Linked DNA regions of Homo sapiens. The protein of the gene in region 1 purifies or fractionates together with the protein of each later gene. This does not show direct contact. Each region holds a gene or a part of one and is shown in the gene's direction. Other genes may lie near its edges. The genes, in order: DKK4 and RNPEPL1.

What was found.
Region 2: the proteins of DKK4 (region 1) and RNPEPL1 purify together in Homo sapiens (affinity purification with mass spectrometry; 2 studies listed by BioGRID and IntAct, with this or other methods). This does not show direct contact.

The regions. Positions count from the first base shown.
Region 1 is NC_000008.11:42,375,699-42,379,616, reverse strand, and holds the start of DKK4 (dickkopf-related protein 4 precursor), read left to right. Parts: upstream 1-2,387; 5' UTR 2,388-2,571; coding exon 2,572-2,682; intron 2,683-3,786; coding exon 3,787-3,918. UniProt on the Homo sapiens protein: Antagonizes canonical Wnt signaling by inhibiting LRP5/6 interaction with Wnt and by forming a ternary complex with the transmembrane protein KREMEN that promotes internalization of LRP5/6.
Region 2 is NC_000002.12:240,578,212-240,581,918, forward strand, and holds the end of RNPEPL1 (aminopeptidase RNPEPL1), read left to right. Parts: 3' UTR 1-3,161; downstream 3,162-3,707. UniProt on the Homo sapiens protein: Broad specificity aminopeptidase which preferentially hydrolyzes an N-terminal methionine, citrulline or glutamine.

The DNA.
Region 1 (3,918 bases):
CTAAATCATGCCTTCGTCTGTATTTATATCTTCATAAGTCCTCCACCCTTATATTTATACCTTTATTTTAGTGCTTGTCATAATACATTGAAATCATCCATATGTACATGTCTTCTATCTGGATCTCTCTCTCTCTCTGTGTCACCCAGGCTCTGTCATCCATACATACAAGTTTTCTGTCTGAATCTTTCTCTCTCTCTCTCTCTCTCTCTCTCTCTCTCTCTCTCTCTCTCTCTCTATATATATATATATATATATATATATAGGCTTAATCTCCTGGGCTTAAATGATTCTCCCACCTCAGCTTCCTGAGTTGCTGAAACTACAGGTGAACACCACTATGACTGGCTAATTTTTTTTTTTTTTGAGATGGAGTCTCACTCTGTTGCCGAGGCTGGAGTGCAGTGGCACCGTGTTGGCTCACTGCAACCTCGGTCTCCTAGGTTCAAACAATTCTCCTGCCTCAGCCTCCCGAGTAGCTGGGATTACAGGTGACCACCACCACGCCCGACTAGTTTTTATATTTTTAGTAGAGACAGGGTTTCACCATATTGGCCAGGCTGGTCTCGAACTCCTGACCTCAGGTGATCCATCCACCTCAGCCTCCCAAAGTGGTGAGATTACAGGCGTCAGCCACCGCACGCGGCCTACTTTTTTTTTTTTTTTTTTTTTTGTGGAGACAGGATCTCAATATGTTGCCCAGGCTCGTCTTGAACTCCTGAGCTCAGGAGATCTTCCCACCTTGGCCTCCCAAAGTGCTGGGATTACAGGTGTGAGCCACTGTGCCCGGCCATTGGAGTTTCAAATTTTATTCCTAACATGTAATCCGAGGCTCTGTTCCATGCCAAGTGCTCTAAGTGCTCAGTGGCTGTTTGTGCCGTGTTACAGGAGTTCCCGTCAGTTCTTTCGCCTGTGTATATTGCCAGGGGCCTTTGGTAACCTGAAATTCCCTTACAGTGAGGCAGCAGGAAGCAGAGAAACCCGGCAGAGACAGAACCCTGGGGGCTCTTTCCTTTATCCTTGGTCATAATTGTACAACTTGAAAATAAATTCTGTAACACCCCTAGTCACCAGGGTTATCATGCTATCAAAGGGTGTTGTTTGATGTCAGTTTAAGGGATTAAAACAAGTAACTTCCATACGAGAGGTAGACAAGCAATACCAACCCAAGGACAAGGGCCAAGTAGTAGGAAGGCTCGAATCACCTGCATCACCCTCGGAATGGCACTGCATTACTCAAAATTGAGAATGTTCCCATGCACAGAATGCTGAGATTCATGTCAATGAATTGATGTTAGGTTGTTCTGCAGGAAAATGTAGTAAATAATAAGATTATCATTTATGGCATAGAAAAAATGCATTTTAGATGACTCTATGCTAAGAGCAATGAAACAATGAAGAGAAAAAATGATTTTTTGATCCAGATCTAGATTGTTCTACCCTTAAAGTATTTAAGACAGTGATAAGCACATGTCTAAATTACCTGACTAATAGTCCAAATGGAAAAAAATCAGACAGGAAAGGGATGAAGCAGAAGTTTTAAAAAATTCGTATTAGGAAAATTGGAAATACATGAAATTTCATCTGAAATCAGCCAGAGACTTGGATCCTTGTTCTGCTTAAGTGAGTTTTACATAATGCAACACAAATTAAATATGTTGCTGATAAAATGGACCCAAAGCTTCGTACTGAATTGTGTAAAATGCGCTATCATTGTTCCCACCATTGAAAAATGGGATTTTCATAAATTACATTATTTTCCTAATAACCCTAACTTCAAACAGTTCAATTTTCATTTAAAGGAAAGTAATTTCCCAAATGGCATTTAGTCAGAACAGGTGCTGTTACGTTCACAACTTTTAAGCGGTTGGGATTTTGACATCTGGATGCCAGAGCTAATCAGGGGGCGTTTTCTCTTTTTCTATCTGTCCTCACTATCTGAAGCCCAGTTTACAGCTTCTCAGTGTATTTTGTACCTCATTAGTTTTTGGCATCCTCTATAGCATATTGGCCAGTATGATTCATCCTTTCTTTGAGCACAATTAGCTGTGAAAACAGATCTTAGGGCAGACTCCCTCCCTACCCCCAAAGGATTACTGAAGGTAGGAAATGCAGGTGATTATCAGAGTTTGCCTTTGATACAGACATCCTGCTCTGCCGTGGCCCTTTGAACTAACTTTGATATGCAATAATTAAGAGGGATTGAACCCCTGGAGGAGAAGCCGCATGGCCCTGCCTCTTCTCTCCTTCTATTGAGTCCTTGTTTTGAACTATTGATCAAACAGATTTGAAGGGATTTGTTGAAGCCTGTGTGGGGCAGGAGGAAGGAACGGAGCGGGGAGGAGGCACATCTGGTTATAAATAGTTTCAGGAGGAACCTGCTGGTCAGACTTTGCTCAGCCGATTTCACGCACCTTACTCAGACTAAGGTTTACTTCTTTCAGAAAAAGCAGTGACAAACAGACGACGTGCTGAGCTGCCAGCTTAGTGGAAGCTCTGCTCTGGGTGGAGAGCAGCCTCGCTTTGGTGACGCACAGTGCTGGGACCCTCCAGGAGCCCCGGGATTGAAGGATGGTGGCGGCCGTCCTGCTGGGGCTGAGCTGGCTCTGCTCTCCCCTGGGAGCTCTGGTCCTGGACTTCAACAACATCAGGAGCTCTGCTGACCTGCATGGGGCCCGGAAGGTAAGGCTGCTAGGGAGGGGGGCGAGGTACGGGACTGCTGACAGCTGGGGTGTTTTGTTTAGGCTTTAGTAAGTCATTCTGATTCATGTATGAAATGTCTTACCTAGCAGGTAAATTGAATTGGTTTCGGATTTGGGAGGGCATCCTGGTAGGATCAGTGGCCTTAGTGTGAATGTATGAAATAAACACAGTGGCTTTTCACATCATTCGGCCATACGTTTGTCTATAAATCACGAAATAAACGAACACTTTGGAAGCTCTACTATGTGCCAGCTCTTTTACATGTAATACGTCATGTACTCTTCCTCACAATTTGAGATAGGTGAAACATTCCCTAATTCCAGATGAGGAAATAAGACTCAGAGATGTTGAAGAGCTTACCCAAGCTCACACAGCCAGCAAGCAAACATGGGAATGAGAATTTAAACAGAGGGCCATGATGCATTGCCTTGTCACCATCTAACTTCACAGAGAGAGTTGTTTTAGGAATCGCTTTATGTATGTGTATATGTTATTATATATCGTATAGATTATTACATATATCATATATGCTACACCTACGTTGTATGTCTATGTAGAAGCATCAACTGTGTATGAGAACAATTGATCTTCGGTATCTCTTTCTCTATGTCAATGAGGCATCATTGAAAATCAAAGGACAGTTCACTTAGGGAAGGGTCTCTAAGCTAAATGTGATTCACTAGAGTAAAAAATCAAATAGGAATGCCACAAACATCAATAGTATGTTTAATGAAACTGTAGCCAGCTTCTAGAGTTAAGATATATTGAAAATCTCATACTCACCTGTTAAGACACACATAGGAAAACATTTTTTCCCATTTTCACAAAGAGCACAGGAAAACTAAATTCTGAGTTAAGTCAATTTTTCAAACTCAAATAGCCTTTGCAGCGCCTAGGTCTCCCCGGGTGACATGAGCTTCCCTTTGTGGGAGAAAACCATTTCCACTGGAGAGTAAGATGCTGCCCAGGGTTTGTCACAGCGCCACTGTCCTTTGGCTCCCTCCGCCTCCTGCCTTCAATAATAAGTCATCTTCCATCGTGTTGGGGGTTTCCTAGCCTTGTGATAACAGATTCCCTCCACAGGGCTCACAGTGCCTGTCTGACACGGACTGCAATACCAGAAAGTTCTGCCTCCAGCCCCGCGATGAGAAGCCGTTCTGTGCTACATGTCGTGGGTTGCGGAGGAGGTGCCAGCGAGATGCCATGTGCTGCCCT
Region 2 (3,707 bases), on another chromosome or scaffold:
GGCAAGGGCCCCAGCAGCCCTATGGTGACCGCCACACTGTGCCTTAATGTCTGCCGGGGGCCCAGGCTGTGCTGTCCCTGCAGCACGCCTCCTTGCAGGGATCTGAGCCACCCTCCCCGCACAGCCCTGCACCCCGCCCCTGGGGTTGGCAGCCTCAGTTGGCCCCTGGCAGAGGAACAAGGACACAGACATTCCCTCAGTGTGGGGGGCAGGGGACACAGGGAGAGGATGGTTGTCCCTGGGGAGGGCCCTCTGGCCCCAGGCAACCTTAGCCCCTCAGAACAGGGAGTCCCAGGACCCAGGGAGAGTGTGGGGACAGGACAGCCTGTCTCTTGTAGCTTCCTGGGGTGGGAGGCACAGGGGCAAAGCAATACCCCAGGGAAAGTGGGAGGTGGTGCTGGTGCTCTCTCCAGGCCCACCATGCTGGGAGAGGCGGCCAGAGCCTGGGGCCTCCAGCCTGGGACTGCTGTGATGGGGTATCACGGTGATGGTCCCATTAAACTTCCACTCTGCAAACCTGATCTCCTGCGCTCTTTCTCGCGACTCTTGTCCTCTGCATCTTCCTGGCTGTGTAGGGTGGGCTGGCCTGCCGGGACTTGGGGCCTGGAGCTGGTCAGGAGCTGGGTGTGGCCCCCTCCTCTGATACATAAGCCCGAGAGCAGGCTCCCCGAATCCTGCCCAGCCCCTTGGCTGGACCCCCTGGGCCTGAGTAGCCTCTGGATGTCACAGGAAAGCCATGTGTCACCTTCACTCTGGGCCTTCACCTGTGGCTTAAGCCAAATCCCGGCCTCAGTGGTGATCCTTTCCCAAGATGGGTACAAGGTGACAGGCATGTTTTGTTTTGGAGAACTGAGATTTCCATTTTCCCAGGCGATAGGTGTCGCTGCCCTTCACAGTCCCCAAGGATGTGGCGCCACCATCTCAGTGCCACGCACACCTGGCCAACATGCCGTGGCCCAGAAGCAGCACGTCTCTTCTCCCAACCCGCTGGCCAGGCCCAGTCACAGCCCCACTCCACACATGGCAGCCAGGAAGTGGGGAGGGCAGGAGGTGCTGGGCAAATAACCCTGATACCATCACTGTCCAGTCCCCAGTCACCAAATGTCCCACTCACCCTCCTTCCTGTTCTGGATGCCCCGCCCCTCCCCTCCCCTCCCAAGGACATATGAGTCCCCTCCAGTGGCGGTGGCAACTCTGGTCTAGGGTCTGGGGCCGTCTCTACATGTGTTGCTTCATGTACCTTCTTCACATCAGGTCTGGGGGAGGCGCCACCCCATCCAGAGACCTAGGAACTAGAAGACTGCCACTGCCCCTCACACCCAGGGATAGGATGACTGCAGTAACCCCTGTGAAAGCGGGTATGGAGGGCACCTGGCAGCCCCTGCTGCATGGCCATCTAAAGTCTTGCCAGGCAGGCACAGCTAGGGCCCCTGCCTGGGAGTGGACACCCCACTCCCCCAAGTCATGTTCTCTGTGGCCTGGGGCTCCAGCCTTGGGAGGACCCCTTTCCTGTTTCTTAACCATGCTTGATGGTGTCCTCAAAGGAGCCCTGCTCAGTGGCAGAACTGCTTTCTCAGCCTCTTCCCCGCCAAGGTTGTTTTCAAGTCCCAGCAGTCACAGACTTTCATCCTGGGCTCTTCTTTCTTTTGCAATTCAGCTCTCGAAATGACTCTGTGGTCTGCGGGTGACTCCACTCCACGTGCCTACAGCCACGCCCACAGCGCCACCTCCGGACGCTGCTGAGCTGCGCACCTGTGCCTGACACCTGGCTTTGGGAAACTCAGCAGCAGTGCCCAGCGTCATGACCCTGGGGGCAGGAGGGCATCTGGATCCAGGATGGCACCCTCACCACAATCTGTCTTGGCTCTGTGCCCGCCCGTGGGGTACACAGGAGGGCTCTTTCAGCCCTAAGTCCTTGTGTTCCTGACCTTTGTTCCTCTTCCACCCAGCTTGCAAGTGCAGAATTTTTTTTTAGCTCGTCGCTTCCCTGCAGTCCCTTGTCCAATGCAGCCTCCGGCCGATACTCAGGCCAGTGTTGTTTCCCAACCTCTCCACTAGATACGCACACTTAGCTCACGGTCTGCCTCATGAGTCATCCCAGTTGAGCTTTACCAAATGTTTTGCCCCACCTAACAGCCTGCCCACATTCCAAATCCTGGCAGGTCGCACGTTTTATTAGCACAGCACCCCTCTCCTAGCGGCCAGCTTCTCTATTAGGCCACGTTATGCTCCAGCCACACAACTATGAAGCGCAGACGTCTCACACAACAAAGCTTTCTCATGCTGCAGGCCCACCTCAGGCTGGCAGGGGAAGGGGGGATTCTCTTCAATGTGACCACTCTCGGACCCGTACCGATGAACAGAGATCTCAAATGTTTCCAGGCACCTTGCCAGGGATAAGAGAGCTGTTGAGGGGCTCACACTGGCAGTGGAAGTTCTAAGGGGCCTACAACCACAGGGGCTGCAACCCCACCATATGCACAAAAGCGGGGGCAGATGGCAAACAGCACTAATGACAACGACGGAGCTGAGGCCAGAATGTGAGAGAGATCTGCATTTTGGGGATTAGGGCCTAGTCAGGCAGGTAGGAGATGATGTTCAAAAAGGGAAAAGAAGCGTGATGAAAGACTGGTTTCTACAGAGATAGATTAGAAAGCTGAAGCCTGAAAAAACAGTGAAGGAGACCCATGCAAATTTCTAGGCCCTGGAGGTCCAAATAAGGTTTTCTAAGTCCCTCAGGCCATGACAGGTTCAGTCCAGACTTGTCTCCCAGAGTGTTTCTCTGCCATCCCTACTCTAACTGGGACTTATTGGTGGTGTTTCTCTCCTAAGGCCAGATGCTTTGCACAGAACATTAGGAAACTCCAGATGTAAAGGTAAGGCACAACTGAGAATCACCTGCCCAGGGCAGCAACACAGTGTGAAGGAAAACAGGCCACTCAACCCAAACTTACACCTGAGACAGAGGCAACAGAAAAATCAGAAAAGGACTTTAGAACACATATAATCAAAATCTCAGACCTAAAGACGACTTTTGAAATAAACCATAACATATGAAGAGGCACTTATGAAACAAGAACAGGTAGTTTATAAAAAAGAACCAGTCAGAGACCCTGGAAATTTTTTAAAAAGCAATTACTAAAATAAAAAATGAAAACTCAGTCAACAGTGCTCTGGTTTGGATGTTCCCTCCAAAATTCATGTTGAAATTTAATTGCCATTGTGATGGTATTAAGAGGTGGAACCATTAAGAAGCGATTAGGCCATGAGGGTTCTGCCTTGATGAATGCATTAATGTCATTATCAGAGTGGGTTCGTTATCATGAGCATGTGTTGTAAAAATGAATTTAGCTGTCTCTTGCTGTGTGTCCTCTTGCTCTTCCATCTTCCCCCATGGAATGGTGTGGCAAGAAGGCCTTTACCAGATGCCAGCCCCTCGCCCTTGGACTTCCCAGCCTCCAGAACTATAAGAAATACATTTATTTTCATTATAAATTACCCAGTCCGTGGTATTGTTATAGGAACAGAAAATGCACTTGGGGATATTAGGTCGTGGAGAGTAAAAAAAAAAAAAAAATAAGTTCCAGTCAATCAAGGCATCCTCATTCTCAACATTGCCTGCATTCTACCCTCCAGGGGTCCCCTCCATGGCCCTTCATCTGCCCCCACCCCGCAACTCAGCCTCATTTCTTCAGCCATTTTCTCCC